Homo sapiens: one gene and its partner. The protein of the gene in region 2 interacts with the protein of the main gene of each other region in a pairwise test. Each region holds a gene or a part of one and is shown on either strand. Other genes may lie near its edges.

Region 1 (4,293 bases), on a different chromosome or scaffold from region 2:
CAAAGGGAACCACAGCAAATGCAAAACCCCTGAGGCTGGATTGTGCCCGTTTCACTCAAACAGCTAGAAAGAGCGCTAGTATGGTGGCAGTGAGTCAGGGGAAGAAGAGGAAGAGATGAGGTCAGAGAAGTGATGAGCCTGTTCTATGCCAAGGCGAGGACTTTTATCTTTGTCAAATATTTCCACTCCCATCATGGCCCGGGAAATCTCACTAATGTAAACCTTACTGAAAATCCTAACTGCTGTGATCAAGGCTGCCATAAAGGGAAGCCCGGAAGAGGCGGGGAGGCTGCCTTGGAACAGGGTAGTGTAAGGATGTGCCAGAAGGCCTGCTGGAGGTTGCAGCCCTTTGAGCTGGACTTGGGGATAGTGTGGTTTTCCAGGCAGAAGGAAGTGAAGGATTAGGTCGGCCTGGTAGTACTTGGCACACAACATGCGCCCAATAAATAAAATGGAAATAAAACCGCGGAGTGTTCTACTTGTGTTGACTGACATCAAAACAAAACAAAAAACCCTCAGAGTGAGGGGAGGCACGGGAGGGGCTGTGCCGGGCAAGAGAGGTGGCAGGAAAATCCAACGCACGGCGCCTATGCAAATACTCGTGTGAGGCAGAAAAGAGGCTCCGCCCCGCTCGAAGTTCCAAGCATGCGCAGTAGCGGCTCCTGCGCCTCTAAGGATCCGCCTCTTTCCTTCTTTCTCAGCCTGGGTTCCACCCCGGGAGGCCCGCTGTATGAGATGGAGGGCGGGCTAAAGGCGGGACGAGACTCGATTGAGCGCAATTATGACCAATCACCTTGCGGAATATTCGGCCTATAGCGAAGGAGGAGCTCAGAACAAAAAGGAGACCCCACCCCCGCCGACGGTGAAAACCTATGAAACCTGGGCGGAGGCGTGCGGAGTCGGGTAGAGAGCGAAATCACGCCTCTTCAGTCAGCCACGCCCTTTATTCTTGCTCGGCCTCGCCACAGAGAGCAAATCAGATTGGCTGGGCGACAACCTCAAAGGGCGGGGCTGCACACGTTCACTACGGGAATGAGGTAGCGGTGGAGGGGGCAGTTGGGCGGGGATAGGCCGTCCTAGCTAAGGTGGTAAAGGCCAATAACTCTTCAGGCTGCCTCTCCTCGAAAAGTCATCTTCTCGCGAACCTTTAAAATGCCTTCCTCCCCAAGCACCTCAAGGGACTAGAACTGAGTGCTTCATTTGTCTTTTTTCCTCCTTGCAAAAGTCCCGTTTGCCACCATGGGGATGTACCAAGTGAGACCGAGTAGGGGGAACGAGTGGTGATTGACGCGCCAGGTTACTGGCCACTGCTCACCTAGGCGCTAGCAAACTTCTGCCAAGATCGGAACTGAGTACTAAACAGCCTCCACAGTTCTCCCTGGTGCCGTCTCCGGCTTGGCGCCGCATCCTCCTCTGGGCTCGCGATGGCCGCGTCCCCTCCCGCTGCGGACGGGTCCTTTGGTACATGCAGTCCGAGGTGAGTCCCCTCCTTTCCACTTCACCCTTCCGAGCGCCTGCGTGCGCATGCGCGGAGCGCGGCGCGCGCGGCGGTTGGGCCGTTGGCTGTTCGGCCCTGGGATCCGCCGCCACTCCGCGATCAGACCGCTCTGTGCCGCGAGCCGCCGTGAGCACTCGGATTCAAGCCGGCGCCAACGAGTCCGGGGGCATCGCCCGCAGCGGCCAAGCTCATGGCCGGCTGAGCGGGACGCCGCCTCCGCCTCAGCCACCGCCGCCGCCGCCGCCTCCTCCTCCTCAGCCGGCGGCGGCCCGGGCCCAGCAACCATGGCTGAAGACTACTGGGACGGGCGCCTGCGGCGAACAGGAGGAGAAGGAGGTCGCGCGGCCTCATCCCGGGCCGCCGCCCCAGGCGCCGCCGCGCCGGCCCCGCGGCTCTGAGGTTGCTCGCGCGCCCCCGCCGGTGAGCGCGTCCCCGAGGCGTGGAGGCTGCCCCTCCTCCTTCAGAACCCACCTCGGGCGGTGCCCAGGGGTCTGGGCTGCGGGGCTGGCAGGTGCCCCCACCCCCGGCGAATTTCCCAGAATGCACCGGGGCGGGGGGTCATTTGGGGCCTCCCTGACCTTGGCCCCGCCCTGGGCCTGTCCTGGGAGCTGGGGTTGGGTAGTGCTGTGGGTGCTAATGGGGACCTGGGGGAGTCAAAGGACCAAAGGGTGTGGAAATGGGTGACAATGGGGTGAAAGACTTGGGGGGGTTGCTGATGGGGGTCGGAGCATGTGGCAGTAAGCCTCACGCCAATAAGTCGTGTAAGGTTCAAGGCCCCGTGTGTGCTTGTGGAAGGAGGGCGGGGTGCGGAGCGGGTGAGGGACCCGAGGGTGTATAACGGGGGGTAGGGTGTCGAGGAAGTTCTAAGACATGCTCATAGGGATTATGTCCGCAGAGAGGCCCGGTGTGTGTTCATGGGGGACAGGGTGGCACAGGTACCAGAACGTGTGTTGGTGGGGTCAGGGCTCTGAGGCCTGGTGCGTGGCGATGAGGCCCTGGATGGTGTTAATACTGCGTGTCTGTCCGTGGGGCCTGCAGTGTGTGAGAATGCAGTGTGTGCTTGTGGAGGGCAGGTAGCTGAAGGACTCGAGTGTGGTGTGTGCGCCAGTGGGGGTCATGGCTGTAGAGGGTGTATGCCTGTGGCCTCGAAGGTCTAGGTAGTTTGGGACCCAGTATATGCTAATGAGGGCAGAGTGGAGGAAGGACCTGAGGGTATCTAACGGAGGAAGGACTGTGGAATACCTGAGCCTGGCCTAAAGGAGATGAGAATTGCGTGTCTGTCTGGGCCCAGGAAGGAGTGGTGGGGAAGTGTCTTAGCACTGTCAGAGGCTTAGTGGACGAAGGGTAAAGGTGATGTGAGGTGTGAGTGTGTCCATGGACACAGGGAATGTGAGTCTCGAGGGCACACTAGGAAGGAGCAGGGTAATAGAAGTACTGGTGGTTGCTAATGTGGGTTTAGAGACATAGAGGCACTTCAATGTGTGCCATTTCGAGAGTCAGCTGTGTGAAGTCTGGAATATGCTAATAAGCATCAGAACCTTGTGAAGATTGTGCCCTTGTGTCCGCGGAGGACCAGAGTATGTTGAGGTTCCAGGGGGTGCTACTCGGGGGTAGGGCTGCGGAGGGGATCTAGTGTGTAATAAGGGGGATCAGGGCTTTCATGAAGGGATCTAAGTGTGAACCAACAAGGATTATATCTGTGGAGATATCTCTGAGCAGAGAGCAATAGAGGACAGGAATGTGTGATGATCTCGGTGTGCTAAAGTGGATTACAGCTAGGGAGGGCTGAAGTGTGTGCTAATGGGAGTCAGGGCTGAATGAGACCTGTGTGCACTAATGAGGGTCAGGCCATGGTAGAACAGTGTGTTTGTGTGTCCCTGCGGAATAGGGCTGAGTAAGGGTTCAGGGTGCACTAATGGGGAGGCAGGACTGTGTGAGGCCCGGCGTGTGCTAATAGAAATCAGGCCTGAGTGAAGACTCAGTTTGTGCTGACAGAGGGGACAGGACAGTGGAAGGACTGGAATGTGTGTTAAGGATGGTCGTAGCTGTGAAGGGGCCTGAGTGTGGGTAACACTGGTTAGAGATCTATCTGTAAGGTTCACTTTATGTTAATAGCATTCAGAGCAGCATGAAGAAGGTCCAGTGAGTGCTAATGTGGGTCAGCTATAGAGTACCCCAAGTGCATGTTAATAGAGGTCAGAATCATGTAGGGGGAACAGTACGTTAATGAGGGGAGTCAGTACTATGGAGAAGGTAACAAGCAGCTAGGCCAGGGAGGGGCCCAAGAATGTGGTGGCAAGAGTTACTTAGAGGAGGCTAAGTGTGTGCTGACAGAGTTCAGGGCGGTATGTTATGTGTTAGGGCTTTGAATGCTGATGGGTATATGAGATAATAGCAGGTAAGATGTAGTGAGGCCTCCTTGAGGGTCTAGCGTGTATTAATGGGGATCAGGACATAGGGTGCGATGACCAAGTCCTTAGTGGTTGGTGTGTTGAGTATCCTTGAGTATGAGAGTAGTCTGAGGATGGGTGTATGTCTTTGGGGATCAGGAAGGGTCAGGCAGGACATGTGCCTTTTTTGGGGTAAGGTTTTATGTCCAGTTTCTTGCTCCCTCCTTTTTTGAAATCTAAAAAGCTCATTCAACTGAAATGATATTTAAAAGTTTCCTTGCGTATAAATGTTCAATTATCTCTGTTCACAGGGGCATGTCTGAGACCCCCATCCCCCTTTCTGGGAGTGTTATGTGATATACAGATTTTACACCCCATCTTCCTAAAATCCCAAAAAACTGAACT
Region 2 (4,556 bases):
CCAACACTCCACAAGTGCTAGTTTCTTAAAATGGTTACAGTGGAATTTTGTGTTATCAATGAATTTTTTATTAGTACTCACCCATCTGTCTTGTACAATATATGTATCATTTCCCCTTACTTGGTTTTCTAATATTATGCATTGGTTATATGGAAAATATTGGTTCACATCTCTTCTTTCTTTTTTTTTTCTTTTTTTTGAGACAGAGTCTCATTCCATCACCCAGGCTGGAGTGCAGTGGTGCAGTCTCAGCTCACTGCAACCTCCGCCTCCCGGGTTCAAGCGATTCTCCTGTCTCAACCTCCCAAGTAGCTGAGATTACAAATACATACCACCATACCAGCTAATTTTTTGTATTTTTAGTAGAGACAGTGTTTCACCATGTTGCCCAGGCTGGTCTTGAATTCCTGAGCTCAAGCAATCCGCACACCTCAGCCTCCCAAAGTGCTAGGATTACAGGCGTGAGCCACCATACCCAGCCTGGTTCACATTTCTTGACAGTGGCAAAGCTCACTTTTGTTAGTATCACCACCAATTGTATTAAAAAATCTTTAAGTATTGAGAAGCTGTTAAACTCACATAATAAGGTACAAGTTTCTCCAAATCCTGATTTTTAGTTTGAAAGCTTGAATTTTATCATTGCAACAAATAGTGTTATTTTCTTGAAGTGACAGGCTTCATTTTTTTAAAACTTTTTATTTATTTATCTTTTGAGACTGAGTCTCACTCTGTTGCCCAGGCTGGAGGGCACTGGTGCCATCTTCGCTCACTGTAACCTCTGCCTTCCGGGTTCAAGTGATTCTCCTGCCTCAGCCTCCTGAGTAGCCGGGACTGCGGGCGCCTGTCACCATGCCTGGCTAATTTTTGTATTAGTAGAGATGGGGTTTCACCCTGTTGGCCAGGCTGGTCTCGAACTCCTGACCTCAAGTGATCCACCCGCCTCAGCCTCCCAAGGTGCTGGGATTATAGGCATGAGCCACCACACCTGGCCACTTCTTTCATTTTTGAGAATGACATTTGTACTTTCAAGTAAAAATGATATTCTGTGAAAAAAAAATGGCTTGTTTAGCTCACAATTAAATCACAAGTGCTTTTCCTTAACACAACTCTACCTCGGTATGCAGAATTACTTTATGTGAACTTTCTGCTTACTCCAGAATAGTGAAAAGAAAGGTCAAGATTTAATAATACCATTAATTTTTACTGCTTCAGCAAGGATATTCATGAGTGAAGCAGGTGTTTTTCTTAAACTGCAAGAGGCAGTAAAGAGTAGCATAACTTCTAGTATAATTTGGTAGCACTGCCTTGATTCATGCTGAGAAGCCAGCAGTTTGCCCACTTTTGCTGTTATACACTCATTACAAATGTCATACAGTCAAAAAGCAAGCAATACCTTAGTATTCTTTTTTTTTAAATTATTTTTATTTCTAAATTTTCAATCAGCTTTCTCAGGTTGAATAAGTATTCTTAAAAGAACAGTTTTGACCTCAAGGACCTCTTGGAAAAGGATCTAGAGGGTCTCCAGAAGTCCACAGACCACACTTGGAGAACCACTGGTTTTATTAAATGAGCACAATGTATTAGTTTTATAAACTTGTAAAGATTATCAAAGCCTTGTCTCTTTTAAAATAAAAAGACAATAAGGTTTTTAACTCATCAAACTACTTAAACAAATACATGTCAAGAATGTAATACGGAGAACTAGAAAGGAAAAGCCTGGGAAATCTGAATTTCATTCACAGTCATTAAAGTTCTAAAGAGTTTATTGCCCACCACTACTGCTGTGTAAAACGTTCTTGAGTTCCAATGAGGGGTTAGAAGAGTGAAAATATACTTTATTACCATTGCCTGTTAGGGAGGGCCAATACTTAAAGGCAATTCTGAATCGTCATTGTAGAAAAGACCTCACAGTACAGAACCTCATATGCTGAGTAAAAAGAGGTCAGGAAATCCTCTGAAGGCTGGCATCCCGGAGAAGAATTTGTACAACTCTTTGCTTTGGTGAAGCAAACACCAAAGCAAACAGGAGGCATCTCCCGCCACCCCCAGCAGACATTTTACTCAGATATTAACAATTCCTGAATTAACTTCTTCAATGCATATTCTTATTTTATAGAGATGCAAATAGATCCCTGGATATTTTTGATGAGAGATCACATCCACTTACAGTAAGTGTCACTTTTTTTGAGGTAGTATTTTTCTCTCATAGAGTTGTGTTTATTTCATGCTGATATTTATAAATAGTCCTAACAAATATACATGATCTCTATGAAGATAATTAGAAAACAATTTAAATTTAAATCAATTAAAATGGTGTAAACATTTAAAAATTCACTTCCTCAGGTATATGATAGCCGCTCGTGGCTAATGACTATTGTCTTGGACAGTGAAGCCTTTGAGCCTTATGGTTACAGGAAACTAAAGATATTTTTTCAGGCCGGGCACGGTGGCTCATGCCTGTAATCTCAGCACTTTGGGAGGCCGAGGCAGGCGGATCACGAGGTCAGGAGATCAAGACCATCCTGGCTAACACAGTGAAACCCCGTCTCTACTAAAAATACAAAAAATTAGCCGGGCACGGTGGCAGGCGCCTGTAGTCCCAGCTACTTGGGAGGCTGAGGCAGGAGAATGGCGTGAACGTGGAAGGCGGAGCTTGCAGTGAGCCAAGATCGCTCCACTGCACTCCAGCCTGGGCGACAGTGAGACTCCATCTCAAAAAAAAAAAATTTTTCAAAGTGTATTTAAGAGAATCCTAACATATGATTAGTAAGACTTTCGAGCCTACAAGTAGTTTACATTTTGATAGAATTCTGTGGATAGAAAGTGGAAAGGAACATAAAAATTTTCTGAGTTGTGCCTGTATTTTTCCTTAATGATAAATGGTGATGAGTATTGAATCACTATGATATTTTAAGATCCAATTGTTTATATTTTAAAAACTAAAAGTCATGTCACTCAACCAGAATTATTTTAAGGGGTACATGGGCTCAAACGTCAACACTGCTGGTCTTAGGAGTACTTAGGCCAGCTGGGCATGGTGGCTCACCCCTGTAATCCCAGCTCTTTGGGAGGCCGAGGTGGGCAGATCATGAGGTCAGGAGTTTGAGACCAGCCTGGCCAGCATGGTGAAACCCTGCCTCTGTTAAAAATACAAAAAATTAGCCGGACATGTTGGTGCACGCCTGTAATCCCAGCTACTCAGGAGGCTGAGGCAGGAGAATCACTTGAACCTGGGAGGTGGAGGTTGCAGTGAGCCGAGATTGTGCCACTGCATTCCAGCCTGGGCGACAGAGCAAGACTGGGTCTCAAAAAAAAAAAAAAAAGTACTTAGGCCGGGCGTGGTGTCTCACGCGTGTAATCCCAGCACTTTGGGAGGCCAAGGCAGGTGGATTGCCTGAGGTCAGGAGTTTGAGACCAGCCTGACCAACATGTTGAAACCCCGTCTCTACTAAAAATACAAAAACTAGCTGGGCGTGGTGGCGGGTGCCTGTAATCCTAGCTACTCAGGAGGCTGAGGCAGGAGAATCACTTAAACCCGGGGGGTAGAGGTTGCAGTGAGCCAAGATCATGCCATTGCACTCCAGCCTGGGCAGTAAGAGTGAAACTCAGTCTCAAAAAAAAAAAAAAAAAGCTTAAAATTTTTTTCTTCAGTGGATACTAACATTGCATCTTTTCTTCTTTCAGCGAGAAAAAGTTCCAGAGGAATACTTTAAGCATGATCCTGAGCACAAATTTATTTACAGATTTGTTCGTACTCTTTTTAGTGCTGCACAGCTAACAGCTGAATGTGCAATAGTAACTTTGGTAAGATATTTCTCATTTATAAAGTGTCTTTAGAAATTAGTCTTGTACACAGGGTATGGTCCTATTTTTCAAATAAAAATAGGTTCCTGAAATTATCATCAGAACTTTAAGAGAAACCTATGAAAGGAACATAAATACGTACATTCGCGTTTAATCATCATTATGGTTGAACATGTTTCCATTGCTTTTCTCATCACAGAACAGTTGCTACAAAAGGCAGCCGGGGAGATTTCTGGTTTCTCCCCCTACCCATCAATGCACATGTACACATTCAGTGTGTACACATACAAGGCATGGTGGCAGGGCTGGGGGTGATGGGGAGTGGTAACAAAACCATGTGGTTCAGAGCCAGATACTGATTCCAGTGTAGGTCTAAGCCAAGTCCCAGGCTCTATTCCCCAGGTATTTCCGATATGTGTGGTGATTGAGAACTATTGCCCTAAATTCTTTGTTCCTTGGATGATGGGTTTTAATCATCTCTGCCTACCTCTTGTGCCTGCTCGTGATGTTGCCCAGCAATGTGGTACCAGCAATACTTGGACAAAGGCTTTGCTGATTAGCTTACTAAGCTATAGCTGTGTCCTTAACTTTATGTCCTCCATACAGAATTCCTATGGTAAGATTTTATCATTGAATAATAAATCCTATTCAAGTGGTTAGGATTGTTTTACTCCTCCCCACAGCAAACCTATAGAGGAAGGTCAACTGCATGGCCTGGAGGGAAAGAATACTTAGGTCAGTACCTACTCCTT

What was found. Proteins that work in one complex are often made in the same cells at the same time.
Region 1: the proteins of CCNYL1 (region 2) and CDK16 interact in binary tests that used the Homo sapiens proteins (3 or more experiments, as listed by UniProt).

Annotation. Positions count from the first base shown.
Region 1 is NC_000023.11:47,217,188-47,221,480, forward strand, and holds the start of CDK16 (cyclin-dependent kinase 16), read left to right. Parts: upstream 1-1,493; 5' UTR 1,494-1,918; intron 1,919-3,097; exon of another isoform or gene 3,098-4,293. UniProt on the Homo sapiens protein: Protein kinase that plays a role in vesicle-mediated transport processes and exocytosis. Regulates GH1 release by brain neurons. Phosphorylates NSF, and thereby regulates NSF oligomerization. Required for normal spermatogenesis.
Region 2 is NC_000002.12:207,738,539-207,743,094, forward strand, and holds part of CCNYL1 (cyclin-Y-like protein 1), read left to right. Parts: intron 1-2,116; coding exon 2,117-2,168; intron 2,169-3,684; coding exon 3,685-3,804; intron 3,805-4,556. UniProt on the Homo sapiens protein: Key regulator of Wnt signaling implicated in various biological processes including male fertility, embryonic neurogenesis and cortex development. Activates the cyclin-dependent kinase CDK16, and promotes sperm maturation.